Homo sapiens: one gene and its partners. The protein of the gene in region 1 purifies or fractionates together with the protein of each later gene. This does not show direct contact. Each region holds a gene or a part of one and is shown on either strand. Other genes may lie near its edges.

Region 1 (10,049 bases):
GTGGTAGTGTAAATTAGTTCAACCGTTGTGGAAGACAGTGTGACCATTCCTCAAAGACCTATAACCTGAAACACCATTTGACCCAGCAATCCCATTACTGGGTATATATCCAAAGGATTATAAATCATTCTACTATAAAGACACATGCACACATATGCTTATTGCAGCACTGTTCACAGTAGCAAAGACTTGGAACCAACCCAAATGCCCATCAATGATAGACTGCATAAAGAAAATGGGGCACATATACACCATGGAATACTATGCAGCCATAAAAAAAGATGAGTTCATGTCCTTTGCAGGGACATGGATGAAGCTGGAAACCATCATTCTCAGCAAACTAACACAAAAACAGAAAACCAAACACCACATGTTCTCACTCATAAGTGGGAGTGGAACAATGAGAACACATGGACACAGGGAGGGGAACATCACACACCAGGGCCTGTTGGGTTTATAGGGGGCTGGGGAAGGGATAGCATTAGGAGAAATACTTAATATAGATGACGTGTTGATGGGTGCGGTAAACCACCATGGCACGTTTATACCTATATAACAAACCTGCAAGTTCTGCACATGTATCTCAGAACTTAAAGTATAATAATTTAAAAAAAGAAAAAATGTAAAAAAAAGAAATTAAAAAGAGTTGGAGCATAGAAGAAAGAAAAGAAATGCAATTTGAAGGGCAGTATGTGCAGTGTAATCTCATTTGTGGAAACAATTTTTAAAAGAAAAATGCATGTAAATGTATAGGAAACTTCTGGAAAGATACACAAAGCCAAGAGCTGTATGGGAAGAAGGTAAAAGAACCATAGGGAAGAGTTACCTTTTACTTTTCACATAACTTTCTTTCCCTTTTTAAAATAATAAGCATGTTTTATTTTTATAATTTAATGAACAGATGTGTTGATTTGAAAAACACACTGATCCTGAAAGTTAAAATTCCAATTCAGAGAAAATTGATTTCTATGAAAAGTATCAATCCCCCAACAATGTCATCAAAATGAAGTGTAGCTATACAACACAGACAGTGGTTGAGGTTGTCATCACTCACTCGACTTTCACATATAGAATTTAAAACACCCGACCGGGCGCAGTGGCTCATGCCTGTAATCCCAGCACTTTTGGAGGCCAAGGCAGGAAGATCACTAGGTCAAGAGATGGAAACCATCCTGGCCAACATGGTGAAACCCCATCTCTACTAAAAATACAAAAATTAGCTGAGCGAGGTGTTGTGCTAGCTCACCAGGTACTGTAGTCCCAGCTACTCGGGAGGCTGAGGCAGGAGAATCGCTTGAACCCGGGAGGCAGAGGTTGCAGTGAGCCAAGATTGTGCCACTGCACTCCAGCCTGATGACAGAGCAAGATGCCATCTCAAAAAAAAAAAAAAAAAAAAGAATTTAAAATGCCACAGTCCTTGGTGGACTGAACAAAAGAAGATTAACATGGTAATAAAGACAAATGAGTACATATGGAAGAAGGGGTCAGGGGGCTCATTTCTTCTAGGGAACAAGGGCCCTGAGCTTCTATACCCCTTCGTATTTACTGAGTAAAGGAGATAGGGAGAAAGGGGTGGTTGTCAGTAAGCTGCTTGACTTAGTGTAGGCTTGTATGACTGCATTCTTTGAACAGTAGTCTCCAGAGGTTCCAGTAGATAACCTCAAGGAGCACAGCACCAGGGAGTAATTGCCCTCAGCAAACCTCCTGGTGGCAGGTGCAGAAGCGAGTTTGCCCACATTTTGCAATCATGATAAACAGTTGGCTGTTTGATCATATAGCCTTCAGTGGAATGCTGAGTTGGTCACGACCCTCAGGCCTTTGGCTCCCTACATTAAAACACCCATTTCACCAGATTAAAAATATTCAATAAAATTTCTAAAAAGCACTTAACACTTGCCAGCACTTACTAAGGAAGTGCTCAATAAATGCTGTTAACACTCTTACTATTATTTCTCTGCTTGGCAGTTGTCCTAATCCCACACCAGCCCTTCCACATAGCCTAATCCTGACTTGTGTCAGTGATGCATGACTCAACAGTGAATCTGGGACAGCTATTGCAAAATGCAAGACTTAAAATCCATCCCAGATGAATTCTCTTCTGGACCGCAGGCAGCCCTTGAAAAGGATGAGAGTAGAGCCCTCAATCATGGAGGCATTTGTCCCTCAAGATAGGCAGATGTTACCACCTCCATACAAGAACAATCCCATTGCCTATTACAGTTCCCATTTCAGAGAGATACTCCCACATATGTATGTATTTCCCTGAAAGGTTTCTTGTTCCTCTTCTTTTTTTATTTTTTTGAGATGGAGTCGCTCCTTCTGTTGCCCAGGCTGGAGTGCAGTGGCATGATCTCAGCTCACTGCAACCTCTGCCTCCCAGGTTCAAGCAATTCTCCTGCCTCAGCCTCCTGAGTAGCTGGGATTACAGGCACATGCCACCAGGCATGTATTTTTAGTAGAGACAGGGTTTCACCATGTTGGTCAGGCTGGTCTTGAACTCTTGACCATGCCCAGCTAATTTTTGTATTTTTAGTAAAGACAGGATTTCACCATGTTAGCCAGGCTTGTCTCAAACTCCAGACCACACCCGGCTCATTTTTTTATTTTCAGTAGAGACGAGGTTTCATCATCTCAGCCAGCTGGTCTCAAACTCCTGACCTCAAGTGATCTGCCCACCTCAGCCTCCTAAAGTGCTGGGATTACAGGCATGAGCCACCATGCCCACCCCAAGATTTCCTGTTCTTATCTCCAATAAGCCAGCTTGATGAGGAGTAGCGCTAGAGATTCCCATACTTCTTGACTTCCTTCTATCCTTTTCTGCTCACAGGCCCCCTGTGAGAACACTGCATGTTCTCACTCATAGGTGGGAATTGAACAATGAGAACACTTGGACACAGGGTGGGGAACATCACACACTGGGGCCTGTCGTGGGGTGCAGGCATGGGGAAGGGATAGCATTAGGAGGAATACCGAATGTAAATGATGAGTTAACGGGTGCAGCACACCAACATGGCACATGTGTACATATGTAAAAAACCTGCACGTTGTACACGTGCACCCTAGAACTTAAAGTATAATAAAAAAAAAAAAAGAAAGAAAGAAAGAAAAAGAAATAGTGCTGGAGGCCAAATAGCAACCCTGCCCACACAAGGAAGGGCCATGTGTTGTTCACCAAGCTCCCAAGCCACAATTCTCTTTTCCCAGAATCCTTTGCTCTTTGAAGTGTGGTCTTCCTCACTTTCCTGGAACCCTCAGCCCCTCAGTGGGCCCGTCTACCTCTGAAGAGAAGAGGAAGAGAGATCAAATACCCCCCTGGAGGCTTGTCCCTTTGAACCAAGCCCTGAGAACCCCCGCAGCAGTCCTCCTGTGTACCCTCCCCCCAGCCCCACACAGATGGAGAGCCCTGGGAAGGGTTCCCACAGTGCATGAGCTCCAAACAGTGCAAGAGCACAAGGAGTGTGGCGCTTCCAGCCTCTGTCAATAATTCATGAGGCTCAGACTGAGGAGCACCAGTCAGAGTCAGCTTTGCCTGGACATGGGGAAAATTATACTGCAGCTCTCCTGTCTCATCGGGATGTGCTGAGTAGCAAAGCAGAGTGCTGCAGCTGTAACTTCTTGGCTGAGGAAAACACTAGAAATCCAGTGCAGGCCTGTTCTATTACTTGCTCGCCATACACCCCCTTTTGAATGTTGAAATCCTTGTTTTTTTTCTTTTTGTTGAGACAGAGTCTCCATCTGTCGCTCAGGTTGGAGTGCAGTGGCGTGATCTTGGCTCACTGCAAGCTCCGCATCCCGTGTTCATGCCATTCCCCTGCCTCAGCCTCCCGAGTAGCTGGGACTACAGGCAAGTACCACCACGCCCGGCTAATTTTTTGTATTTTTAGTAGGGACGAGTTTCACCGTGTTAGCCAGGATGGACTTGATCTCCTGACCCCGTGATCCGCCCGCCTCGGCCTCCCAAAGTGCTGGGATTACAGGGTGAGCCACCACGCCCAGCTGAATGTCCAAATCCTTTTTCAGCTGCTCAGCTGACCTGCACATATACTAAATGAATCTTGAGCAAACATGAATTCTATTCAAAAGTCATGCCTAGAACTGGATTTCACAAACCAGGATTCTTTCCCCTCTAATTGTAGGGACTGGCATAAGGCTGCCAAACTGGTGATTTCACCAATAACACATCTCTAAACCTACCCATCTGCTTTCATCATCTTTTCTGAAACAAAACACTAACACACACACACACAAAAAGAAGGAAAGGTATACTCCACAATAAAGGACTGTTAAATAAGCTTAGCTTTATGAAACTCACTGTAATTGTTTCCTTTTCTCATTTTGCTTTGAACTAGTGAAAACGCTGCCATGAACCAGCACTGCTTCTCAGTCTGGCTTTGGAGGCCAGTGGGTTAAACTAATTCAGATACTTACCTTTGGGTCTGTTGCGGCCTTTCTACACTGTACCATAAGCCATCCATATTTATTCATTCTCCCGGAAACCCAGGAGGGAGATCATTTCAGCCCACTTGGCAGAAGTGGAGACTGAAGTCTTGGACACAGAATTTATAGCTGGCAAGGACTTTATTCATCATCCATACCCTCAGTAATTTACAGATGAAGAGTCTGGCCCAGGGCACCAATAATAATCACTACATGGTGGCAGTAACTACTATGTGCTTAGTAGCTTACAGTTCATAAAGAGATTTTGCATTCAACAAATATTTATTGAACTAGGATGGAGGCTAAGACCTGGGGACAGAGTGGTTAGGGAGAACTTGAGTGCCCCGAGTTCTTTGCATTTCCACCACTGCTTGAGGGACTGTCCAGCCTCCTCGCTACCACTTAGCCCCTGTAAAGGAGGAAGTCCCTTTGGCGAGGGATATGAGATCCTGTTTTGCCAATGACCGTAGTCTGCCCTCCAAGGGCCCGTGAAGATGGAAGAGACCTTGGGCAGAGTGAAGGGCAGTGCCAGGCCTGGCGCAGCTACTGCCTATCACGTCTCTCTCCCAGGCTGCTCCAGCCTCACCTGGTGGACTCCATGGGGACCACAGGCCTCACCTCCATGGGCAGTCTCAAAACATTTGCCCTCCTGTGGGCTGTCACATACATAGACCCAGACTTTCTTGGAGAAGGAATTCTGAAGAAGCAAAAGCAACCAACTCAAAACCCCCACTTCCCCAAGAAGAAAACGTGGACAAGCAGATGCAGAAGGGCAGCAGCCAAAGTCTGCGGGTTCCTGCGGGGGCCAGGGGAGGGGCGAGCCCTACAGGCAACTTGAACGGAGAGCGCTTTGATCACTCACCAGCCCGGGAAGGCAAGCCCCAGTCAGGCGGAAGGTAGCTGGCTGCGGGGCGGGGCGACTGGCGGGCGGCGGGAGGCGCCAACCGCCACAGACGACTCCCAGCTGGCCGAGGGCGGGAAGGGGGCAGGCAGGGAAGCGGCCCGCCCTTCGTCCTGCCCCTTCGCCCTACTCTGTCACCTCCGCTGGAAGGAGTGGAACCCAGACTTGCTGGTCTGATCCATGCAGATGGCCAGGCTGCTAGGCCTCTGTGCCTGGGCACGGAAGTCGGTGCGGATGGCCAGCTCCAGGATGACCCGCCGGGACCCGCTCACAAATAAGGTGGCCCTGGTAACGGCCTCCACCGACGGGTGAGTGTTGGTGCCGGAGTTTCTGAGGCCCTGGCTGCCTGGAAACATGCACTGGTGTCTCGTCCTTTGCCTCCAGTGCCCCTGTCCTCAGACCTCACATACCGCCAAAGTCTGGCCATGGAAAAAAAGTAGCCACGTGGTCCGCCTGAAGCCCCTCCGAATACCCTGGCCCTCCCTTGCCAGCCCTTCTGTCCCTGCTGCCTCTGGCACAACTGTGCCACCTCTGTGCAGCCCCATCGATCTAGTCCCCCCAGTGTTCTGGGCTGCCCCAGTCAACCAGCCTTACCTAGCCTCTGGGAAGACCAGAAACTGGAAATGCAAGGGAATCTGGATTCAAAATCTTATAACAAGGCCTCCAGCTTTTTGAAAATGTACCATTCTATTTGGGCTCCAGAAAGTGTCCCGGAACCCCTCCCCCTTACCTAGATGGGACACCAGAGCCATGTGTCGAGACTTTTTTTTAGGTCGGTACATCTGGGCCTACCTTGCCCAGCCTGTTTCTCACCCACCTCTCTTGTCAGTCCTGGTTCTCATTTCTACAGGACTTTGCTAGATGCCAGCTCTTCACAAAACTAAAATACAAATGTAGATAAAATGCTAATGGCTGACAACTGCAGAATGTGTAACTCTTCTTCCCAAGGCAATATTTACGTTTTTGACCAGAGACCATCTTTTCACATGCACCCCAAAAAATAATTATGGAAAGAATTTTGAGAATGATGTAGACTAGTAAGAAAGAAACCTGGCGGCAGGACTGTTCTGAGTGAGACCTTCAAATCACGGAAGTGGCTGCTGCTGCACACCCAGCTCATTTCTCACCTCTCAGTCCCAACAGGAGATGAAGCCTGTCACCCGTGGTGGGAACTGTAGAAAGTGATGTCAGTTCTTGGGAACTAAGGCTGTGATCCAGGTCATAATAAAAATAAGTAAAGCAGTGCTAAAAATGGCCATGCCATTAAGCCTGTTTTACACATAGTAGGCACACGTAGGAGTTATATAGAGAAAGAGCCAGAATTCAAACCCGGGCAGTCTTAACTTCAGAGCCCATGCTGTCGACCTCTTCCCCTGCACAGGCCTTAGCAGTCTTTGTCTCTTTCTGCTCACAGGATCGGCTTCGCCATCGCCCGGCGTTTGGCCCAGGACAGGGCCCACGTGGTCGTCAGCAGCCGGAAGCAGCAGAATGTGGACCAGGCGGTGGCCACGCTGCAGGGGGAGGGGCTGAGCGTGACGGGCACTGTGTGCCATGTGGGGAAGGCGGAGGACCGGGAGCGGCTGGTGGCCATGGTGAGCTGCAGGGAAATGGGCACAGAGCCAGGAGGTGGAAAAGGAAGCCAGCCTGAGCCTCCTTCCCTGCTTTCCTAGACAGCAGCACATTTTTACTGTGTGCCTTTCTATTATGTCCATATACTAACGTCAGAGAATCATCCCATCTCAGTCAGAGAATTTTAAAACATTCTAATGCTTCAACCCTGCATCATCCCTTGAGTACCCCAAAGAAACAGCTGGTACTGGTTCTGCAGTAATTTTCAATCTAATTGAACAGATGTGAAGGGTAAATACAATCACAAAATAGATGTTCCCACCCATGAGCTAATAAACATTCCCCTCTTCTTCAGCTTATAGAGTCAAGTCCCTGGGAACCTCAGGAAGCAGCCCACCATGTTTCAGCCACTTACTATGTGCCATTTCCTGTGTTCAGAGCCTTACACAGGTTATCTCTAGACCTGACAACAACCCAAGCAAGGCAAGGACTATTCTCTCAGTCTGCAGACCCTGGCTCAGATAGCTGGAGCAACTTCCCAAGGTCCCACAGCCAGTAAGGAAAGACCCAGACCTCCCAAGCTCCCTTCCTTTATTGGCTGCCTGTGGACTACCAGGTACTGGACTTCAGTCTCAAAGAAAGTACATAAGTCAATGTCATAATTAGTAGTGGACAACAGCCTTGCAGCTGCTGAAGCAACTATGAAGCATTCACAAAGGAAGCTCCTCTTCCCTTGAGGCTCAGGGCACACACTTTATTTCCCAGAGTGGAAGGGAGAATCTACCCAAAAATGGAAAGTACAGGATTCTGCTAACAGATTGGAAGGTTGGCAGAAATAATTTGCATAATCTTCTTAGAAGAGGAGGATCTTAAGCAATAGTAGACAGAATAGGGTAATTCCATTTTTAAGGAACAGTCTGGCAGACACTCAAATGTGCATTGGAAAGAGCCAAATATGAGTCCAAGAAAGTCACAAATGTGAGTCCAAAAAAGCTTGGCTTAGACTGGTCGACAAAGCCCAAGATTGGGGCCTTGATCCTGATGGTGGAAGGAGCCGTTTGGGAGTCTGGATCAATTAGCACTAACCATACGACATGTAAGTAGCAATGTAATGTGAAAATCCTCCTAGAAAAACAACCTGTGCCCCCCACCAGGTTCACTTAACATGGCCTACAGGCCTGGCCCAGAAGTGGTACTTGAGCTAAACCTTAAGGAATGGATGGGAATGGACAGATGGAATAGTGACGAGGTTCCAGATAACTCTGCAAAATGAGCAGACAGCCAAGGAGGAACTGAAGGAAAGAGAGGAGCACTGTCAGTCCACAGTGGAGAGCACAGGCTCAGGAGTACTGCTGGGGAAGGGGCTGCATTGGAAAGATAGAGGCCATGGGCCTCCATATCTTTTTTTTTTTTTTTTGAGACAGAGTTTCATTCTTGTTGCCCAGGCTGAAGTGATATGGCACAATCTCAGCTCACTGCAACCTACGCCTCCAGGTTCAAGCAATTCTCATGCCTCAGCCTCCCGAGTAGCTAGGATTACAGGCATCCACCACCACGTCCAGCTAATTTTTGTATTTTTAGTAGAGACGGGGTTTCACCATGTTGGCCAGGCTGGTCTTGAACTCCTGACCTCAGGTGATCCACCCCCTCGGCCTCTCAAAGTGCTGGGATTACAGGCGTGAGCCACTGTGCCCGGCCATAGCTTCTTAAAAGGATACGTTAAGGACCTTAAAAGGATATGGCCTCTTAAAAGGATATGTTTACACATTCTTGCAGCAAATAAGAAGCCATGTGAGGTTTTGAGCAAGAGAAAGATGGTTATTAGGAAAGCTAATCTGGCTCTGGTAGGAAGGATATACAGAGGAGACACCGAATCCAGGGCATCAGTGAGGAAGCTGTTGCTGTCGTCCAGGTTTAGAGCAGTGGCGGCGGGACTGGAATAGATGTGCCCAAGAGACATTTAGTGGAAACGAACCAAGATTTTCCAACCCCATGTCAAAAAGTGGGAAATAGAGAAGTCAAAAATGACTCTCAGGTAGTTTGTATGACCATTGTCAGAGAAGAGAATGATAGAATACTTGTCAGCAATTTGAAATGTCTTCTGCCAGTTGCCACATGTTACCCTGCAATAAGAAAAGCCACTGCCCTGAGAATGGATACTACCCAGTGGCCTCCTCATCTGCACACCACGAAGCTTCTCACTGGTGTTGTAAGTGGAAACCAGAGTAGCTGCCTATCTGCTTGATTATATTTTTTCTTAAAAATGTATAACTATCAGAACACAGAACAAACAGCTCCTAACCGCTTTAGTGTAGTGATCACACAATTTAGAATAAGACTTAGAAGACTTTCTTTTATTTTTTTCCAGAGACAGTGCCTCATTCTGTTGCCCAGGCTGCAGTGCAGTGACATGATCATAGCTCACTGTAACCTCGAAGTCCTGAACTCAAGCAATCCTCCCACCTCAGCCTCCCAAGTGGCTAAAACTATAGGCATGCACCACCACACCAGTTCATTTTTTAAATTTTTTGTAGAGTTGGGGCTGTATTTCCCAGGCTGTTTTGAACTCCTGGCCTCAAGTGGTCCTCCCCACTGGGCCTACCAAAGTGCTAGGATTATAGGTGTGAGCCACCACACCCAGCCTCATTCATCTTTTATGGTTTGCTGTCTCTGTTCAATCAAAACCCAGCCTCCTCCCATCTCTGTGCTGACAGACCTGGAAGGAGAGGAGTATGGGGTATACAGCAGAGTAGAAAATGTCTCCAGGTGATTCTAGAGCAATCCATTGTCTCCTCCCAGCCCAAACACATGTGTACTGAGCACAGTGCACATCACTTATTAACTTACTCTGCACCTCCCTAGTAACAAGTCCATTGGTGAGACTTACACAGAGCCAACCCAGGTGACTTGGCTTTGTGCCAGGATGCCAAAATTTAAAGGGTGCAAGAAAGTATTAATACCGATTTTAAAAGATTATGTGACTGTAAATTTTGTTAGATTAACACGTTGACAAACCCAGCATTCCTTCCACTGTCTAGAAACAACTGAGCTTAGCACCTAGTTAACAAGAATAATTAGTTAAAACGGGAAGCTAGCAGATGGTGTACATTGTTAGTAACACCCCTCTCTGTGCCAAATCCAG
Region 2 (9,598 bases), on another chromosome or scaffold:
CACATGCGCCCCAGAAGACAGAGTAACACCCTGTCTCAATTTAAAAAACAAAACAAAACCTGCCATCTTAACCATATACATATACACATATCATTAAGATGGCAGTTTTTTTGTTTTTTTTTTGTTTTTGGACAGAGTTTCGCTCTTGTCACCCAGGTTGGAGTGCAATGTCACGATCTTGGATCACTGCAACCTCCGCCTCCCAGGTTCAAGTGATTCTCCTGCCTCAGTTTCCCAAGTAGCTGGGACTACAGGCGTGGGCTACCACGCCCAGCTATTTTTCGTATTTGTAGTAGAGACGGGGTTTCACCATGTTGGCCAGGCTGGTCTCCAACTCCTGACCTCAGGTGATCCACCCAGCTTGGCCTCCCAAAGTGGTGGGAATACAGGTGTGAGCCACCATGCCCGGCTAAGATGGCAGATTTTTTTTTTTTTTTTGAGACGGAGTCTTGCTCTGTTGCCCAGGCTGGAGTGTAGTGGCGCAATCTCAGCTCACTGCAAGCTCCGCCTCCCGGGTTCATGCCATTCTCCTGCCTCAGCCTCCCAAGTAGCTGAGACTACAGGCGCCCACCATGACGCCTGGCTAATTTTTTGTATTTTTAGTAGAGACGGGGTTTCACCTTGTTAGCCAGGATGGTCTCGATCTCCTGACCTCGTGATCCATCCGCCTCAGCCTCCCAAAGTTCTGGGATTACAGGCGTGAGTCACCGCGCCCGGCCTGATGGCAGATTTTTTTAACGGTAAATTATATATTATGTGTATTTTAACACAGTTTTTTTTTTTTTGAGAGACAAGAGTCTTGATCTGTTGTCCAGGCTGGATTGCAGTGGTGCAATAAGCTCACTACAGCCTCAACTTCCTGGGTTCAAGCAATCTTCCTGCCTCAATCTCCTGAGTGGTTGAGACTACAGGCACACCCCACCTACCCTGCATCTGGCTAATTTTTTTTTCTTTTGAGACGGAGTCTTGCTCCGTGGCCCAGGCTGGAGTGCAGTGGCACGATCTTGGCTCACTGTAAGCTCCGCCTCCCGGGTTCAAGCCATTCTCCTGCCTCAGCATCCCAAGTAGCTGGGACTACAGGCGCCCGCCACCACACTCGGCTAATTTTTTGTATTTTTGGTAAAGATGGGGTTTCCCTGTGTTAGCTAGAATGGTCTCGATCCCCTGACCTCGTGATCCGCCCGCCTCGGCCTCCCAAAGTGCTGGGATTACAGGTGTGAGCCACCACGCCCAGCCAACATCTGGCTAATTTTTTAATCTTTAATAGAGATCAGATCTTGCTATGTTGCCCAGGCTGACAACTTTTTTGAATTGGAAAATTTTCTTAATTAAAAAATTTTATCTGAGAAGGGACTTGCATCTAGAATATATAAAGAGCTCTCATCACTCAACAACAAAAAGACAATTACACCAATTGGAAAATACAGGAAAGACCTGACTAGACAGCTCTCTAAAAATACACAGTGGTCAATAAGCACATGAGAAGATGCTCAGTATCATCTTCTCTCATTAGGGAAATGTAGATCAAAGCCACAGTGAGATACCACTGCACATCTACTAGCATGGCTAGAATTCAAAAGATGGATAATAACAAGTGCTGACAAGGATATGGGGAAATTGAATCCTTTTTACACTGCTGGTGGGAATGTGAAATGGTGCAGCCACTTTGGAAACAGTCTGGTAATTCCTCAAGAGAATAACCACAAAATTACCATATGACCCAAAAATTATATTCCTAGGCGAGCTGTTTTTACTCATGCTTTTAATAACAAACATGGGTGTCTCTTTCAACCCCACTTCTCCAACTCTCCGACACTAGGTGGGTGTCCTACAATTCAAGTAAAGTCTGGCACTACCTTCTGCGGTATAGGAAGGTAAGGTTGAAAGCGCTAACCCGCTAATCCTCCCTTGGCCTTTCTGGAGACCAGCTCCCATCCTGAAGCTATATCTAGGGCCCCCAGCCACCAGTTCTCTCATTAGCATACTAGACACTCTTAGGACTACAAAGGTCCCAAGGGCTTGGGGAGCTCCATGTCAGGAGAACAAAAAATCCTCCTACCACCCCTTTCAAAATTGATGGAGGTCATGATCCCACAGCTCTGTGAACATAAAACTGAAATCTACTAGCTTGTACACATTAGTGAATGAATTGTATGGCATGTGAACTATAACCCAATAAAGCTGGCACAAAGGGGGAGGTATGTATGCCCACTCAACAGAGTTTCTGTAAAGTTTAGGAGAAATAAAGTATGCAAAAGCCATCTGTAAGCAGCTCAACACTGCACTGTTAGGATCAGCCAATCGTGCAGGAACAGCTCCCTCTGGCCCTGCACCAACCTTCTGGTCTAAAATCACAGCTCAACATCCAGCCTAGGGACAAAGCAGGGCACGGATGCCAGCTGCCAGCTGTGAGCCAGCACAGCTGCTGGCTTGCAGGAGCCTTGATCTGCAGAGGCCCAGATTCCCACAGCCCAGGGTTGCCAGGTCACCTCCTCCAACAAAGCCCGGGTGTTCCGCTCGTCCCTAGGGGAAGAACATGCCAGGTCTCCACTGAGGGTGGCCACTTAAGTGGGCACTTTCAATCCAGCAAAACACACAGCTCATCCAACACCCGACCCTACTACCCTCCCCAAAACTCCTCCAAGTTATGCGGCCCAAGGCCCTGGCTGCCCAGTCGGCGTCGCAAGTGAGACACCATGGGCACAAAATATTCCCAGTCATCCTACCTTCCAGTAATGCAGGCTCCACAGGGTGGGAGATCAGCCCTGGGCCCAACCACCTGGACGGGAGCGCAGCACCCTCGCCGGGGCCCCACACATCCCTGGCCAGCCACCAGCCTCCTGGAAGATGCCTGCCTCCCAAACTCACAGAGCCGGAGAGCCCTGGCAAGCAGCTTCATCCTGCGGTAAGTGGGCAAACTGTTTACCCAGTGACAAGTATGATGCCCAGCAGAGCCCAAGCCTGTGTCTGCCTGGCCGGCTCAGCAGTGAGCCGGTGTGATCCCTCCCTGATAGAAAGCACCAGGCTCCTGCTCCTCCTAGGACCGCCCCTCCCCCACCAGCCCCCGGCAAGCCGCCTCCTCGGCTTCCGGAACTGGATCACAGGATGTTCTCTACAAAAGACCAGTGATGCAAGGAATCCATGACTCGGCCTGAACTCACAGACAGGGAAACAGGACAGGGCCACCACCCCTCTGCGGGAGAGGATGAACTGGGTGGGGCCACAAGCAACACTCATAAGGGTTCCCACCTCCAGGACCTTAAACCTCGCACCACTCAGGCTGGCCCTCAGGCAAGTAGAAGAATGAGTTCCACCTGGGCGGAGTTCCACCTGGGCAGAGAGGTCTTGGCTCACAGGCACCGGGAGAGCTGGAAGGCTGCGGGGAAGCCGAGGAAGGCCAACACACCGCACAACACGGCAGGTGCCTGGCCCTCCTCTGACAGTGGCCCTCAAGCTCCAGGAGGGCCGAGGAAAATGCAGATTCCTGGGCCTACCCCTCCCTGACCTTCCCCGCCCCTGGAGTTAGAGGCAGTAGCTCTGGGGTGGAGGCTCAGGAGCCTGGTTTTCTTTTTATTCTTCATTGTGGTAAACATCAAATGCTTACAAGAGTAGAGGGAGGAGGGAGTGAACCCCTATGTCCCCATCAAGCAGCCCCAAAACAGTCAGCTCAGGGCACCTCTGGTCTCTGCTCCCACCTGCTCCCCATGCCAGGTTATTCTGCAGCAAATCCCGGATTTCCCAGTACGACATCGTAAATATGTCTGCATTTCCTCTCAAAGATAAAAGCTCCTTGTGAAAAACCTAAAGGAGGGGTATGGTGACTCATGCCCACAATTCCAGCACTTTGGGAGGCCGAGGTGGGAAGATCACTTGAGCCCAGGAGTTCAAGACCTGCCTCGGCAACAAAGTGAGATCATGTCTCTACAAAAAATCTTTTTAACATTAGCCAGGCACAGAGGCGTGCACTCGTAGTCCCAGCTACTCGAGAGGCTGAGGTGGGAGAATCCCTTGAGCCCAGAAGGTTGGGGCTGCAGAGAACCATGATTGCACCACTGCACCACTTAGTTGCCTGGCCAACTAAGCGAGACCCTGTCTCAAATAAAAATAAAAACCACAAAACAAAGATCTCATCTAAAATATCATCCAAATTCCTAATATCATTAAATAGCAAGTGACTTCACGTTTCTGTCCTAAATGAATTGAAATCTGCATTTGTGAACTTCATTCACAAGATCCCAAGTCTCTGTGGCCTGGTGAAGAGAAACTGCAGTGTGCAGGGAACAGGGTAATACAGGGCTACGGGGACACAGGAGCGAGGCCCAGCACTGAGCTCGATCCGGTTCCATCGACACGAAATTCTAGAAGAGGCACAGCGAGTGAGTGAAAGCAGATCTTTTTGCCAGGGGCCAACAGTAGGGGAATTTTGGGAGTTTGGAAATATTCGACATCACAACTGGGCCCGCCACTACTCAGTGTGCACACTCATCAAAACTCAGCAAACTGTACGTTTCAAATATTCTTGTGTATGCATTCTAAATCTATCTCAATAAAGCTGGTTTAAAAAAGCAAACTACAAAACAATTATCCTACCTTAAAAAAAAAAGCAGTGATTCCTTAAAATCATTATCAAGGGACTATTCAAGTTTCCCCATTATCTCCTCAATCTTCATCTTGTTGACTCTCTGCTGAAGTACTGTTCACATGCAGAAAACCCATATTTGTAACAGACTTCCCCAGTTATTCCCATGCAGGGGTCCAAGGATGGGGAGGCACATCCTTGATCCCCCTCCCCAGGAGGGCTCTGAGAGTGAGAGGCCAAGGGGTGGGATGGCAAGACAGCCTATGGGGTCACCCCCTGGTGCAGGCTACACAGGCCAGGTGGGTCACACAGGAGAAAGCCACTTCTGGTCTGACCAGAACTGGGGAGCCAGCTAGCTGCAGGTGCCAATTCCAGGGCAATGCCAGGCTAAGTGGCCCACTTACAGCGTGAGGTTGGACAGTGGGTAGACAAAGGCCTCCCCACGCACAGGCTCTCTGGGTTACAAAGACTGCATCTTCACCCAGGGTCCACACATCCCAGCAGCAAGAGAGCCAGCACTGTAAATCATTTTGCGGAATGCTCCAGAATACAAGCTCTGAGTGTGGCTTCTGTAAATCAGGTTCTTTGTTTTTTTTTTTTTCTTTTTTTTTGAGACGGAGTTTTGCTCTTGTTGCTCAGGCTGGAGTGCAATGGCACAATCTCGGCTCACTGCAACCTCCGCCTCCCAGGTTCAAGCGATTCTCCTGCCTCAGCTTCCCAAGTAACTGGGATTACAGGCACCCGCCACTACGCCCAGCTAACTTTTTTTTCTTTTTTTTTGAGACCAAGTCTCACTCTGTCGCCCAGGCTGGAGTGCAGTGGCGGGATCTCAGCTCACTGCAAGCTCCGCCTCCCGGGTTCATGCCACTCTCCTGCCTGCAGCCTCCCCAGCAGCTGGGACTACAGGCGCACACCGCCACGCCCGCCTAATTTTTTGTATTTTTAGTAGAGATGGGGTTTCACTGTGTTAGCCAGAATGGTCTCCATCTCCTGACCTCGTGATCCGCCCACCTGGGCCTCCCAAAGTGCTGGGATTACAGGCGTGAGCCACAGCGCCTGGCCAGGTTCTTTCTTTTCATTAATTCCATTATAAAACCAAAGACAGAGCCCGGCCTGGTGCAGTGGCTCACACCTGTAATTCCAGCACTTTGGGAGGCCGAGGCGGGCAGATCACTTAAGGTCAGGAGTTCGAGACCAGCCTGGCAAACACAGTGAAACCCCGTCTCTACTAAAAATACAAAAATTAGCCGAGTGTGGTGGTGGGTGCCTGTAGTCCCAGCTACTCGGGAAGCTGAGGAGAGGAGAATTGCTTGAACTGGGGAGGCAGAGGCTGCAGTGAGCCAAGATCCTGTCACTGCACTCCAGCCTGGGTGACAGAGTGAGACTCTCTTAAAAAAAAAAAAAAAAAAAGGCCGGGTGCGGTGGCTCACGCCCGTAATCCCAGCACTTTGGGAGGCCAAGGTGGGAGGACCACAGGGTCAGGAGATCGAGACCATCCTGGCTAACACAGTGAAACCCCATCTCTAATAAAAATACAAAAAAAAATTAGCCGGGTGTGGTGGCGGATGCCTGTAGTCCCAGCTACTCAGGAGGCTGAGGCAGGAGAATGGCGTGAACCCGGGAGGCGGAGCTTGCAGTGAGCCGAGATCGCGCCACTGCACTCCAGCCTGGGCAACAGAGTGAGACTCCGTCTCAAGAAAAAAAAAAAAAAAAGACAAAGGTAGAGCCCCTCTTTGTCTTTTCCCTTGGGGGAAATAATTCTAACCCCATAACATACTGAAACTCATAGCCACTCAGCTGCTGTTTATTGACCTGTCAACTAGACCTCAGACACTATTCTAGGCATTCATGGTACCACATGGTACAACACAATTCCTGATCTCAGGAAACTTCCTGGTAGATCTGCATCTAAGAGCATGGCAAGCAAAGAAAACACAAAAAAACCTTGTAGATTTCACACATCTACCTATAAATAAAGCATGCCAAGTTATCTGCCTGCTGGGTGGTGTCCATGCCAAGGTCCCCCTCCATCAGCATGGTTATTCCAGAGCTGGCTACAGTCCCCAGAAAGCCTTGGAGCTTCCTTTAGGAACACCCTGCCCCCCACAGACCTACTAGTAAATTGATGTTTAAATTTCTCTACATATTGCACTCCCCAAAAGATAGCCACCAGCCACAGGTGGCTACCCACCTGAATTTAAATTGATGCAATTAAAAATTCTGTTCCCTTCGTGACCAGCCTGACCAACATGGTGAAACTCCATCTCTACTAAAAAAATACAAAAAAATTAGCTGGGCGTGGTGGCGGGCGTGTGTAATCCCAACTACTCAGGAGGCTGAGGCAGGAGAATCAGTAGAACCTCGAAGGCAGAGGTTGCAGTGAGCCGAGATGGCATCTAGCCTGGGGGACAGGGCAAGACTCCCTCTCAAAAAAAAAAAAAAAAGAAAGAAAAAAAAGCCCCTATCCCTTCAACAATGTCTGAACTGAGAACATGTGACCATTGTGTCTAAGATGGTGGGAATTTGGACGTTCTCACCCCTGCTAGACTGTGACCCCTTAAGGCAGGGGCCACATTTTCCACACGTTTCCCTCCTGGTGCTATGCTTCTTGGCAGTGTCCAGTAAAGCATTGTTAAATTCATGGGCTTGGCTGTGCTAGGCCAGGAGGCTCCTCTTTCAACTTGGGGTGTCAGCTCAGATGTCCTTAAAGGGCTCCCCATCCTAGTACAGTCACTCTCCAGTGTCCTGCGGTTTCTCTGAGTCAAGCCGATGGAACCACAGCCTTCTCTTCACAGGCCTACCCCTACCACCACTCCCGCCTACTCCTTTGGCAGTCACGCTCTGCACCTGAGGCTCACCTGCTCACTCATGAGCAGGGGCAGCCAAGCATCCTCCTCACCAGTCGTCTGGCCAAGGCAGCCACTTAGAAACAATATGCAATTGGCCAGGCACGGTGGCTCATGCCTGTAATTCTCAGCACTTTGGGAGGCCGAGGCGGGCAGATCATCTAAGGTCAGGAGTTCGAGACTAGCCTGGCCAACATGGTGAAACCCCATCTCTACTAAAAATACAAAAATTAGCTGGGCACGGTGGTGCACGCCTGTAGTCCCAGCTACTCGGGAGGCTGAGACAGGAGAATCACTTGAACAAAGGAGGCAGAGGTTGCAGTTAGCCGAGAGTGTGTCACCGCACTCCAGCCTGGGTGACAGAGTGAGACTCCATCTCCAAAAAATAAAGAAACAATATGCAATTGTGAACCTGAGATAGCAGACTTGGTTTACAGTGGGTAAGAAAAAGCACACACACGGGCCAGGCGCAGTGGCTCACGCCTGTAATCCCAGCACTTTGGGAGGCCGAGGCGGGCAGATCACCTGAGGTCAGGAGTTCAAGACCAGCCTGGCCAACATGGTGAAACCCCGTCTCTACTAAAAATACAAAAATTAGCCAGACATGATGGCGGGTACCTATAATCCCAGCAACTCAGGAGGCTGAGGTGGAAGAATCGCTTGAACCCAGGAGGCAGAGGTTGCAGTGAGCTGAGATCGTGCCATTGCATTCCAGTCTGGGTGACAGAGCGAGACTGTCTCAAAAACAAACAAACAAACAAACAAAAAGCACACACTTACTGTATGGAAGTGTCTAAAGCTATACAAAAATCTAGTAACTAGGCTAGGAGCAGTGGCTCACGCCTGTAATCCCAGCACTTTGAGAGGCTGAGGCGGGAGGATCACCTGAGGTCAGGAGTTCAAGACCAGCCTGGCCAACATGATGAAACCCCATCTCTACTAAAAATACAAAAATTAGCTGGGCGTGGTGGCGCACGCCTGTAGTCCCAGCTACTCAGGAGGCTGAGGCACAAGAACTTTTTCCAGCTGGGTGCGGTGGTTCACACCTGTAATCCCAGCACTTTGGGAGGCCGAGGAGGGCAGATCACAGATCACCTGAGGTCAGGAGTTCGAGACCAGCCTGGCCAACATGGAGAAACCCCATCTCTACTAAAAACACAAAAATTAGCCAGGCGTGGTGGCGCACTCTTGTAGTCCCAGCTACTCGGGAGGCTGAGGCCCAAGAATCACTTGAGCCCAGGAGGCAGGGGTTGCAGTGAGCTGAGATCGGGCCACTGCACTCCAGCCCGGGTGACAGAGTGAGACTCTGTCTCAAAAAACAAAAAATCTAGTAACTGTTAGAAGCTGGGTGAAAAAAGACAACATGTATAAATTGGCTATTCACCACCCTGAAGAAGTAAATAAAAGGCCAGCCTTCCACGGGAAGATTTAAATCAAGGTTTCCTTTATTCAGGAGAGGGGTGGGAAGAATACTGGATCTGGAGTCAGAAGACTTGGGCAGGGGCTGTCCCTGGATCTCCTGGAGCAGGATGACCTTACACAGTTACTCAACTCCCAAAACTGCCATTTCCTCCTCCACACAGGTAAGGGTGGCACTACCGACCATCAACCTCCCAGGGAATTGGGCAAACCAAGTGGGATGAGACAGGTATAAGCTCTTTGCAAACCATGGAGCCCAAGTTTCCCAGCCAATACTCAGCAGAGCTGATTCAGGAACCTGATGCAGGCTGTCTGTCTCCAGTTATTTCCTTTTTTTTTTTTGCCCCGCTTTCCCCACCTCCAGAGTCGATGGGACCAGAACAGCCACAGAGCCAAAGTCAAAGGGGCAGGGCTCCCCCAAAGACGTTCCCCCTCTGGAAAAGTCAAAACCGACCTTGAGGTAAGGAGAGGCCCTCGACCAGGCCAGAAGATGAGACTGAGAGTCAAGAATCGCCATAGACCCAGGACTTGCTATATGCCCAGCCTTCCTGGAGATGTCAACATCTACAGGAAAGTAACTTGCTTCTATTGGACTTGGCTTGAGCCCAAGGTCAGTCTGTGATGCCCAACCCCCAAATGTGAGGAACCCACTACCAAAACAGAAAGCAGCTCTCACTCCTGGTAGTTCATCAAGCAGGATAGGACCGGTCGCAGGCCACAGAGCCTGTGTGCAGTGGCTGAAAACCTAGACTCC
Region 3 (9,598 bases), on another chromosome or scaffold:
GCAGTGCCAGTCCTCGTGCTCCTCGTGGCTGCCCAGCTCACCCACCCACATGAGTCGGGCTGATGTTGCTGCTTTGAAGGGGGACTTGGGTGGGCTGGGTTTAGCTCCGTGTGGTGCTTGACATGCTGTGACCCGTTTCAGGCTGCCCAGGCTTTGCTGAGGTTCTGCAGACCTTCAGCACCTGCAAGGGGATGCTGGGTGAGATCCTGTCTGCATTCGAGTTCATGGATGCTGTGTGCATGCAGCTGGTCGGGCGCCATCTCCACCTGGCCAGCCCGGTGCAAGGTACTGACCCCCCACACAGGGGGCAGCTGGTCCTGCAGCTCCTTCTGCACGTCTGGACACATGGGACGGCTCAGAGACCCCGGGTGGGCGGGGGGTGCCCGGGCGGGCGGGTGGGGGGTCCCTGGGCGGAGCATGGAGTGGCCGTTGGGCTCATGTGTAAGAAAGCTGCTCTTAACATATTTAGGACAAAGAACAGGCTGCCCTGGTCCTGTGTAAGGTTTGTAGTTACACAGATTTCCTGATCTTCTGCAGGAAGGACGGGAAGGAACTAAGTGGCTATTTTTGGTGAGCTGGGAGACTTTCTTTCCATTTCTTCTTTTCTTTGTTTTCCCATGTTGCTTTCTGTAAGCACGTTTTTCTTTTATGCTGGGAAAAAAGCCAATAATTTTTTGTTGTTGGGGGATGGAGTTTCGCACTGTGGCCCAGGCTGGAGTGCAATGTCACGATCTTGGCTCACTGCAGCCTCCACCTCCCGGATTCAAACCATTCTCCTGCCTCAGCAGCCTCCACCTCCCGGGTTCAAACGATTCTTCTGCCTCAGCAGCTTCCACCTCCCGGGTTCAAACAATTCTCCTGCCTCAGCCTCCTGAGTAGCTGGGATTACGGGCACCTGCCACCACACTCAGCTAATTTTTGTATTTTTAGTACAGACAGGGTTTTGCCGTGTTGTCCAGGCTGGTCTCGAACTCGTGACCTCAGGTGATCCACCCACCTCAGCCTCCCAAAGTGCTGGGATTACAGGTGTGAGCCACTGTGCCCGGCCAAAGACGACTTTTTAAACCTTCTGAAAGTCAGCTTAACCAGAGAGCTGTGTGCTCCGCAGGCTGCCTGGGTCCTTCTTGGCCACGAAAGATCAGTGGTTGCTATTACAGCTGTTCTGCCCGAGCAGCCCTGATTCTTGCCCTGGCAGCCGGAGCCTCTGCTCACTCTGCCTTCCTTGCTCACTTCTAGAGAGTCCGTTTTACGTCCTCATCGAGACTTCAGGCTCCAACGCAGGCCATGACGCTGAGAAGCTGGGCCACTTCCTGGAGCACGCGCTGGGCTCCGGCCTGGTGACCGATGGGACCATGGCCACCGACCAGAGGAAAGTCAAGGTGCCCTGTGTCCTGCTTGCAGGTCCCCGCTCTCTGTCCGTCCAGTCCAGCCTTGTCTTGGGATGCCTGGAACGGTCATTGGTGCAGCCTAGACAGTGTGGGATGTGGCTGAAATGTGACTGGGTTTCATGGCTTTGAGAGAGTAGCCTCTTTGGATGGAAAATGTATTCCTGGTGTCTAGGCCATTTTCATTAATATTTAAAAAGTACTTCCTCCCCACCATGACCCTCCCCAACCCCATGCTGTGGGATGAGCAAGGGGACTGCCCCATTGCTGGTCCCCTGCAGCCTGTGGTTAAGCGGCCAGTCAGCGGCAGCTCCGCATAGAGTCGTGTGGAAGGAGTGGAGGCAGGAGGAGCCCCTGGGGCTGTGGAGGCTTAGCCTGGACCTCGGGAGTCCTAGGATGGGCAGTTTTCCTTCCCTAGGAGGAAGGGGCGTTGACTGTGTGACCAGATGATTTGGCCTTTTGAGGCCAAAGGAAGGAGGGGCAAGGCCTGGGCAGGGGGAGCCCTCGGTCACCGTCACCGGGGCCTGGGCAGGGGGAGCCCTCGGTCACCGTCACCGGGGCCTGGGCAGGGGGAGCCCTCGGTCACCGTCACCGGGGCCTGGATAGTGGGAGCCATTGGTCACTGTTACCGGGACCTGGGTGGGAGGAGCCCTCAGTTACCTTCACCGGGGCCTGGGCAGTGGGAGGCGCCCTTGGTCACCGTCACCAGGGCCTGAGCAGTGGGCGCAGGACTTTACTCCCGCTTAGTTGATTTCAGGCTCGTGTTAGCCTGGGTGTTGCCCTTGCCATCTTCCCCCCTCACCTTTGCCGCCTGACTGTCATGATTCCAGTGCTTCTGGGCAAAACGGTGTCTGCTCCCAAGGGCTGGGGTGCGGTCGGCTGGGCTCACTTGTGTGTCCTGATGCCCAGCCCAGGGGCGTCCTCTGGGCGAATGGCAGCTGTGTGGTGCCATCTCTGTTGACTGAGGCATGATCAAGTGTGCGTCCTTCCTAGGTCTCTGCCTGCCATTCCTGCATTTTTCTAAGTGGACTGTGACAGTCAGCTCCCTTACATTCTGCCGCAGTAACAAGCAATCCCCAGGCCCCAGGGACCACACGAACAGAGGCTCACCCTCCCTCGCGTTCCGTGTGGGTGATCGCTGTGGCTGCATGTGCTCCTGTGGCTTCCAGTCCAGGGGCCCGGGCTGAGGCAGCTGCCCAGCCAGTCAGTCTGTTTTCCCAGCAGAAAGAGCAGGACAGCCGCCGGGGATTCTCTCAGCTTCTGCTTGAGATGGGGCGGGAACGTGAGCCCAACTGCCCTTGGTGGTGCGGGTGGGGACCCTCATCCCGCACTGGCTGCTTTGCTGGAGTGGCAGTCAGTCATGCAGCCCCCACACCACCCCCAGGAGGGCGACCCTGGCACCCCAGCCTCCACACATCAGCCCCCATGCCCCCACAAAGGAAGGCTGCCCCCAACACCCCCAACCTCTCTACCAGCCCCCATGCCACCCCCAGGGCGGGCCGTCCTCCATGCCCCCAGCCTCTGCACATCATCCCCCACGCCACCCCCAGGGCGGACTGTCCCCAACGCCCCCAGCCTCTGCACATCAGTCCCCAGCCCCTCCACAGCCTGGTCCAGTCCTAGACCTGTGCCTTGAACATTAATGCCCAGAGCCGGGTTCATGACCAGGACAGGGCCGAATGGGGCTGGTTCTGTGTTCACAAAGTCACCTCCAGACGCTTCCTGGGACGGGTTCAGGAGACGCCTTGTGTGTCTGTCACCTCGTTCTGGCTCATGCTCGACGGGTAGGTAATCTGGCCTTTGTTTTCTGCAGATAGCAAAACGACCCTTTCTTAGGTGTGCGGCTCGATGAGTTGACCCGGATATGCGGTTGTGTGCAGTTGCTCTGAGGCTTTTCTGTGCTGTTGTCCGGTGTTGGCGAGGCTCTGGGCAGGTCCTGAGGCTTTTCTCTGCTGTTGTCCGGTGTTGGCGAGGCTCTGGGCAGGTCTGGGCAGGTCCTGAGGCTTTTCTCTGCTGTTGTCCAGCATTGGCGAGGCTCTGGGCAGGTCCTGAGGCTTTTCTCTGCTGTTGTCCGGTGTTGGCGAGGCTCTGGGCAGGTCCTGAGCCATTCTGCTTTCCACTCTGTGGTCTTTCCCTTCTGGGAGCCCTGGGTTTTTGGACATGTTGAGACAATGGGGCTTGCGCAGGTCCAGCCGCTGCCGCGGGGGCCCTGTGTTCAACGGGGGACACTCAGCCCTGCCCAGGCCCCGCTGTAGCCTCAGCCCACCCGAGTGGAAGCCACACTGGTCGCACCAGATGCCCCGGGCTCCTCTGAGTAGTGACCACGGCGGGTCTCATTGGCACTGCCTATCCACCCGTCACGTGTCATTCAGTTAGCAAACCTGCTAGGGAGATGCCTCCTGTGCCCTGTGCCTGCCGGGCGACAGCAGTGACCAGGGCGGGAGAAGCCTTGCCCCATAAACTCACGCAGCAGAAGGAACAAGCTCAGCCCATGGCCCCTCAGAGCCAGGAAGCGCCGGGGAGGAGGGCAGGGCCAGGCAGGGTCATGGGGTGTGCCGGGGAGTGCCGGGAGGGCCGGAAAGATGACCCTGAGGGGTCATTTCAGCAAAGACGGGGTGTGGGGAGCAGAACGTCTGGTGCAGGAGCACCAAGACCCTGAGGGGCGCGTGCCTGCCATGTTCTAGAACCTTCCAGAGATGGTGGGTGTGGAGCTGAGTGACTGAGGCGTGAGCAGACAAGGGTAGAGCCCATCTTGTGGCCACGGGGACACATGGGGCGGCCGGTCTGATGAGGAGGTAAGAAGGCCTCACAGGCAGCCGATGCCCGCCAGACCATGGAGGCGAAAGCCGGCCTCGCAGCCGTGCCCGTGCGGCTGTGACGAAGGGACCGTAGGAGGGGCTCTTGCTCAGGGCAGGGCGTGACCCAAGGGTCTGATCTGACCGAACTAGCTCTAGAAGTTTGTAAAAGGGGCCGGGCACGGTGGCTCATGCTGTAATCCCAGAGCTTTGGGAGGCTGAAGCAGGAGGATCACTTGAGCCCAGGAGTTTGAGACGAGCCTGGGCAACATCGGGAGACTTCAAAAAAACAAAAAATTGATGGTGGGGAAATGCGGGAATTTTGGGCGCCGGCCGGATTCCCAGTGGTGGCGAGGAGGTGGTATTTTTTTAAGTGTCAGTGTGGCATTGTGGTTGCCTCAATAAAACAGAGTCTTTTTTTGTCTTTTTTTTTTGAGACAGGGTCTCGCTCTCACCCAGGCTGGAGTGCAGTGACACAGTTGCAGCTCACTGCAGCCTCGACCTCCTGGGCTCAAGCAATCCTCCCGCCTCAGCCTCCCGAGTAGCTGAGTCTACAGGTGCCCACCACCAAACCCAGCTGATTTTTATTGTTTTTAAGAGACGGGGTCTCCCTGTGTGGCTCAGGCTGGTCTGAAACTCCTGGGCTCAAGTGATCCTCCTGCCTCAGCCTCCCAAAGCTCTGGGAATACAGGCGTGAGCCACTGCGCCCGGCCAAGTGTTTCTCTTAGAATTTCCTGAAATGATAGGGTCTCTGGAGGGGCAGGTGCTGGGCTTGAGCCCTGGGTAGGACCCTGCAGGGGAGAGGTGGTCCTGCAGCCCACAGAGGATGGCTCTGTCCTGTTCCTCATGGTGCAGATCTCCACAATGGAAGTTCGAAGCAAGCAAAAGCCACGCAAACCACAGGCCGATCTGTCTGAGCCCTAGGATTTGGCCCGGTTCTGCTTCAGCCACCAGCACCGTCTGCTCCTCCTCAGAATCCTTCCTCCCCCGTGGCCCGCCCGCCGTGTCCCTCCTCCTCCACGGCCCGCCCACCGTGTCCTTCCCTCCCCCGTGGCCCACCCACCATGTCCTTCCCTCCCCTGTGGCCCACCCGCCATGTCCCTGCCTCCCACCCGACATGCCCCTTGAGCTGCCTGGGCCCTGCTGTTGTCCCCACTGCCTGTGTGACTCTGCGCCCCCTTCCCTACCCTGCCCCACCCTGGTTCAGGGAGCGTCCAGGCCCATTCTCATCCTCAGGGCCTTCCCTGGCCCTTGCCACTCTGTGCCGTGTCATGACCTGAAGCTGCAGGTGGGCGCCTCCCCCTTCCGTCATGGCTGTCCCCCTTCTGTGAGGTGTCCCAGCCGCCTGATTGCCGGAGTCCCAGGGTGCTCGGTGCTGTCGTGGAGCCTGGGACATTCACTGTCTGGGATTGATTCCAGGGTTGGAGCCACACCTGGTCTGGGGCATTCGCTGTCCTGGGTCAGAGCCCCTCCTGGTCTGGGACATTCGCTGTCTGGGGTTGGAGCCACACCTGGTCTGGGGCATTTGCTGTCCGGGGTCGGAGCCTCACCTGGTGAAGATACAGAACATGCTGCTGCCCTAACCCCGTGTGGTGTGCCCCCTGTCCCCGGGTGTCGTTCCCATAGCCAGCCCTTGTCTCATCTCGTCTCATCCTCTAGATGCTGTGGGCCCTGAGGGAAAGGATCACAGAGGCGCTGAGCCGGGATGGCTACGTGTACAAGTACGACCTCTCCCTCCCTGTGGAGCGGCTCTACGACATCGTGACTGACCTGCGCGCCCGCCTCGGCCCGCACGCCAAGCACGTGGTGGGCTATGGCCACCTTGGTGAGCGGCGCCCCGGGGCCGCGGCCCTGTGTGTGCTGGGTGGTGGGCCCCACGGTCACCGTCACCCTGCCAGGCTTCGAGGCAGGGCAGTTTGACCATGGTCTCTGGCTTAGCATATCTCCCGTAGACACTGGCAGGACCACGGTGTCTGACAGGGAAGGGAAAATCCTAATCGTTGTCATGACTCGTTTTGAGTATTTTGGAAAAGACTGCCATCGTGCACTTGTAATGGCAGAGCGCATGGCTCAGCTTGTCAGAACGTTCTGGGATCTTCAGTGGCATGCAGGGTTGGAGGGCATCAGCCTTAACCCCGGAGTCCGGGATGCGGGTCTCAGGGGCTCCTCTCACAGGGCCCGGCCCCGAGGCCTTTGCAGTGCTTAGCCCCCAGCTGCTCTACCCCTTCAGATGGGAGGATTTCAAAACCACGTTCAGATCATCTTTTTTCTGCAGAAAAATCATGCTTTAACGTGTAAGCTATTAATTCATAGGAAGAAAATGTTTCAATCCTATCAGTTCTTTTTTTTGAGACGCAGTTTCACTCTTGTCACCCAGGCTGGAGTGCAGTGGCGCAATCTCGGCTCACTGCAACCTCCATCTTCTGGGTTCAAGCAATTCTCCTGCCCCAGCCTCCCGAGTCTCTGGGATTACAGGCGTCCACCACCAGGCCTGGCTAATTTTTGTATTTTTAGTAGAGACAGGGTTTTGCCATGTTGGCCAGGCTGGTCTTGAACTCCTGACCTCTGGTGATCTGCCCACTTCGGCCTCTCAAAGTGCTGGGATTACAGGAGTGAGCCACCGTGCCCAGCTGTTTTCCTGTCAGTTCTTTGGAGCCTTGGAGCGAGGTGTCTAAAAGGCCAGCTTATAGGGCAGGGGTGGGGGCAGTGCTGGGGGTGTGGAGCATGGCTTTGGGGCCTGACAGATATTCACTCTGGCTTCTTCCCTGGCCTGGTGGCACTGGAGTCACTGACCTGAAGCCTCCATCCATCTGCCAGTAAATGGGATTCAGGTGCCACCTCTGTGGTTACAGGAGGGTCTAGGGTTGTGTACGTGACGACAATAACACGTATTACTTACGAAGGTCCCGTGCTGTCCCAGGCATTATTCTAAGCACTTGATGTGGAGAAACTTCTCTGCACAACAGCTTTTAGGACTGGTGGTGTTGCTTCCCTTTTACACACATGTAAACAGGTTCAGAGAATTTAAGTAACTTGCCCAAAGTTGCCCAGCCTGTGGAGGGGTACATCTGGAGGATTTGACATAGGATGGATGGTAATCTTCTGTGATAGGAAGGCAGGACTCCTGAATGGGAAGGGGGTAAGGGCATGATGAGTGTGTCATCATCCAGAGAAGAGGGGTACGGGAGCCCCAGTATTTCAGAATATGGGAAGGGGGTAAGGGCATGATGAGTGTGTCATCATCCAGAGAAGAGGGGTACGGGAGCCCCAATATTTCAGAATATGGGAAGGGGTTAAGGGCATGATGAGTGTGTCATCATCCAGAGAAGAGGGGTACGGGATCCCCAATATTTCAGAATATGACCTCAAGCCAGGAGGAGGCTTCCTCCTCTCCAGGTAACTTCAGTCTCTCTTGGCCACAGATAAAGCAGACCATCTTGGTGAGAAATGGAATGAGCCCTCTGTTACTTTGTAAAAGCAAGAATGGGCCAGGCGCAGTGGTTCATGCCTGTAATCCCAGCACTTTGGGAGGCTGAGGCGGGTGGATCACCTGAGGTCAGGAGTTCGACACCAGCCCGGCCAACATGATGAAACCTCGCCTCTACTAAAAATACAAAAAATTAACTGGGCATGGTGGCAGGCACCTGTAATCCCAGCTACTCGGGAGGCTGAAGCAGGAGAATCACTTGAACCCAGGAGGCGGAGGTTGCAGTGAGCAGAGGTTGCACCATTGCACTCCAGCCTGGGTGACAAGAGTGAAACTCCATCTCAAAAAAAAAAAAAAAAGCAAGAATGAATGTTGAATTTTTAAAATGTGTTTCCTGCATCTGTCATGGTGACCGGGTGCTTGTCTGCCTGTAATCAGTGTGGTAAGTTACACTGATTGATCCCTCTGGAGTCAGATGAGTCTGTGTTTCTGGGGTAGGCCCAAGGTGGCCATGATCCTTTCTGTATCTTGCTGGATGAGTTTGTTTATGTTTGGTGTGGGATTTTGACAGGGGTCTTGGTGGATGATTCTGTTCCACGCTGTTCCTTTCTTCTGTCCATGCTGGATTTTGGTATCAAAATCATAACATGAATATTATGCAGAACTTGCCAGTGGAGCTGTTTGGGCCTGGAGGTTTTTTTGAGGGAGTATTTTAAAATTATAGCTCAGCTTCTTCAATAGCTTTAGGACTTTCAAGCTTTCCTTTCTTCTAGATTGGTATTGCTAATTTTTTCCCATATTGGCATAAAGTTGTTCGAATATTCTTTTGTTGTCTTTTTATGTAGCATTTGTGGGATGCCCCCACACCCTTTTTTTTGGTGGGGACAGGGTCTCGCTGTCACCCAGGCTGGAGTGCAGTGGCTCACCACAGCCTCGACCTTCTGGGATCAAGCAGGCCCGCCACCTCACACACACCAGCAGGCCTGGCTAACTAAAAAAAAATTTTTTTGTAGGCCCGGTGCAGTGGTTCACGCCTATAATCTCAGTACTTCAGGAAGCCAAGGCTGGAAGGATCACTGGAGTCCAGTAGTTCTAGACCAGCCTGGGCAACACAGTGACATCTGATCTATACCGCCCCCCGCCCCACAATATATGTGTGTGTGTGTGTGTGTGTGTGTGTGTGTGTGTGTGTGTGTAGAGCCAGACTCATGTAGAGCCAGTTGTGTGGCCGGACCGGTCTTGAACTCCGGGGCCTCAAGCAAATGCTCCCTCCTTGGCCTCTCAAAGCCAGAGATTACAGGCGTGAGGTACTGTGCCTGGCATTATTTGCTGCTTGCATTATCATTCCTTCTTTGACCGATGAGTTATGCAGAAGTGTGTTTCTTAATTTCCAAACGTGGTGGTTTTCTAGTTATTTTAAAAATTATTGATTTCTTTTTTATTGCATTATACCCAGGAAACTTCGTCCTTATCAGATCAGATTTTTGAAACTTGATCAGTGGCAGCTTATGATCAGCCTTCGTAACTGTGGAGTGCTTGAAAAGAATGTGCTCTCTGCAGTTGCTGGAATCAGTGTTTGTACAGATCCATCAGATAGAAGTATACGTCGCGTGTTCATTCTACATCCTGCTGACCTGCCACTCCCTGAGGGAGGTGTTAGAAATCTGCTGACAACAGACTAATCTGTTCCTCCTGTAGCTTTGCCAGTTCTGGAGACGTGTTCTTAGGGGCATAGGACATGAGGTTCGTCTCTTTGTTTTGGGAAACTGAATCTCCTAACGCGATGGACTCGCTCTTTATCTCCAGCATTGCCCGCTGCCTTGGTGTCTGCTTTGTTTATTACACAGTGATGCTAACTTTCTTTTATTTAGTGTTTGCCTGATGTGTTGTTTTTCCTCCGGTTAGCTTCAGCTTTTCCATCCTTAGTGATTTAGATGTGTTTCTTGTGGACGCCCCCGGACAGGTTTCTTGCGTACTTGTTTGCCGTCTTG

What was found.
Region 2: the proteins of DHRS4L2 (region 1) and ACOT7 purify together in Homo sapiens (affinity purification with mass spectrometry; 3 studies listed by BioGRID and IntAct, with this or other methods). This does not show direct contact.
Region 3: the proteins of DHRS4L2 (region 1) and D2HGDH purify together in Homo sapiens (affinity purification with mass spectrometry; 3 studies listed by BioGRID and IntAct, with this or other methods). This does not show direct contact.

What each region holds. Positions count from the first base shown.
Region 1 is NC_000014.9:23,983,430-23,993,478, forward strand, and holds the start of DHRS4L2 (dehydrogenase/reductase SDR family member 4-like 2 isoform 1 precursor), read left to right. Parts: upstream 1-5,499; 5' UTR 5,500-5,518; coding exon 5,519-5,646; intron 5,647-6,752; coding exon 6,753-6,930; intron 6,931-10,049.
Region 2 is NC_000001.11:6,382,768-6,392,365, forward strand, and holds part of ACOT7 (cytosolic acyl coenzyme A thioester hydrolase), read right to left. Parts: intron 3,002-9,598; exon of another isoform or gene 2,900-3,001; coding exon of another isoform or gene 2,727-2,899; intron 1-2,726. UniProt on the Homo sapiens protein: Catalyzes the hydrolysis of acyl-CoAs into free fatty acids and coenzyme A (CoASH), regulating their respective intracellular levels.
Region 3 is NC_000002.12:241,750,010-241,759,607, forward strand, and holds part of D2HGDH (D-2-hydroxyglutarate dehydrogenase, mitochondrial isoform 1 precursor), read left to right. Parts: intron 1-141; coding exon 142-285; intron 286-537; coding exon of another isoform or gene 538-570; intron 571-1,236; coding exon 1,237-1,379; intron 1,380-4,069; coding exon of another isoform or gene 4,070-4,108; exon of another isoform or gene 4,109-4,180; intron 4,181-4,621; coding exon of another isoform or gene 4,622-4,654; exon of another isoform or gene 4,655-4,737; intron 4,738-5,035; exon of another isoform or gene 5,036-5,127; intron 5,128-5,839; coding exon 5,840-6,005; intron 6,006-9,598.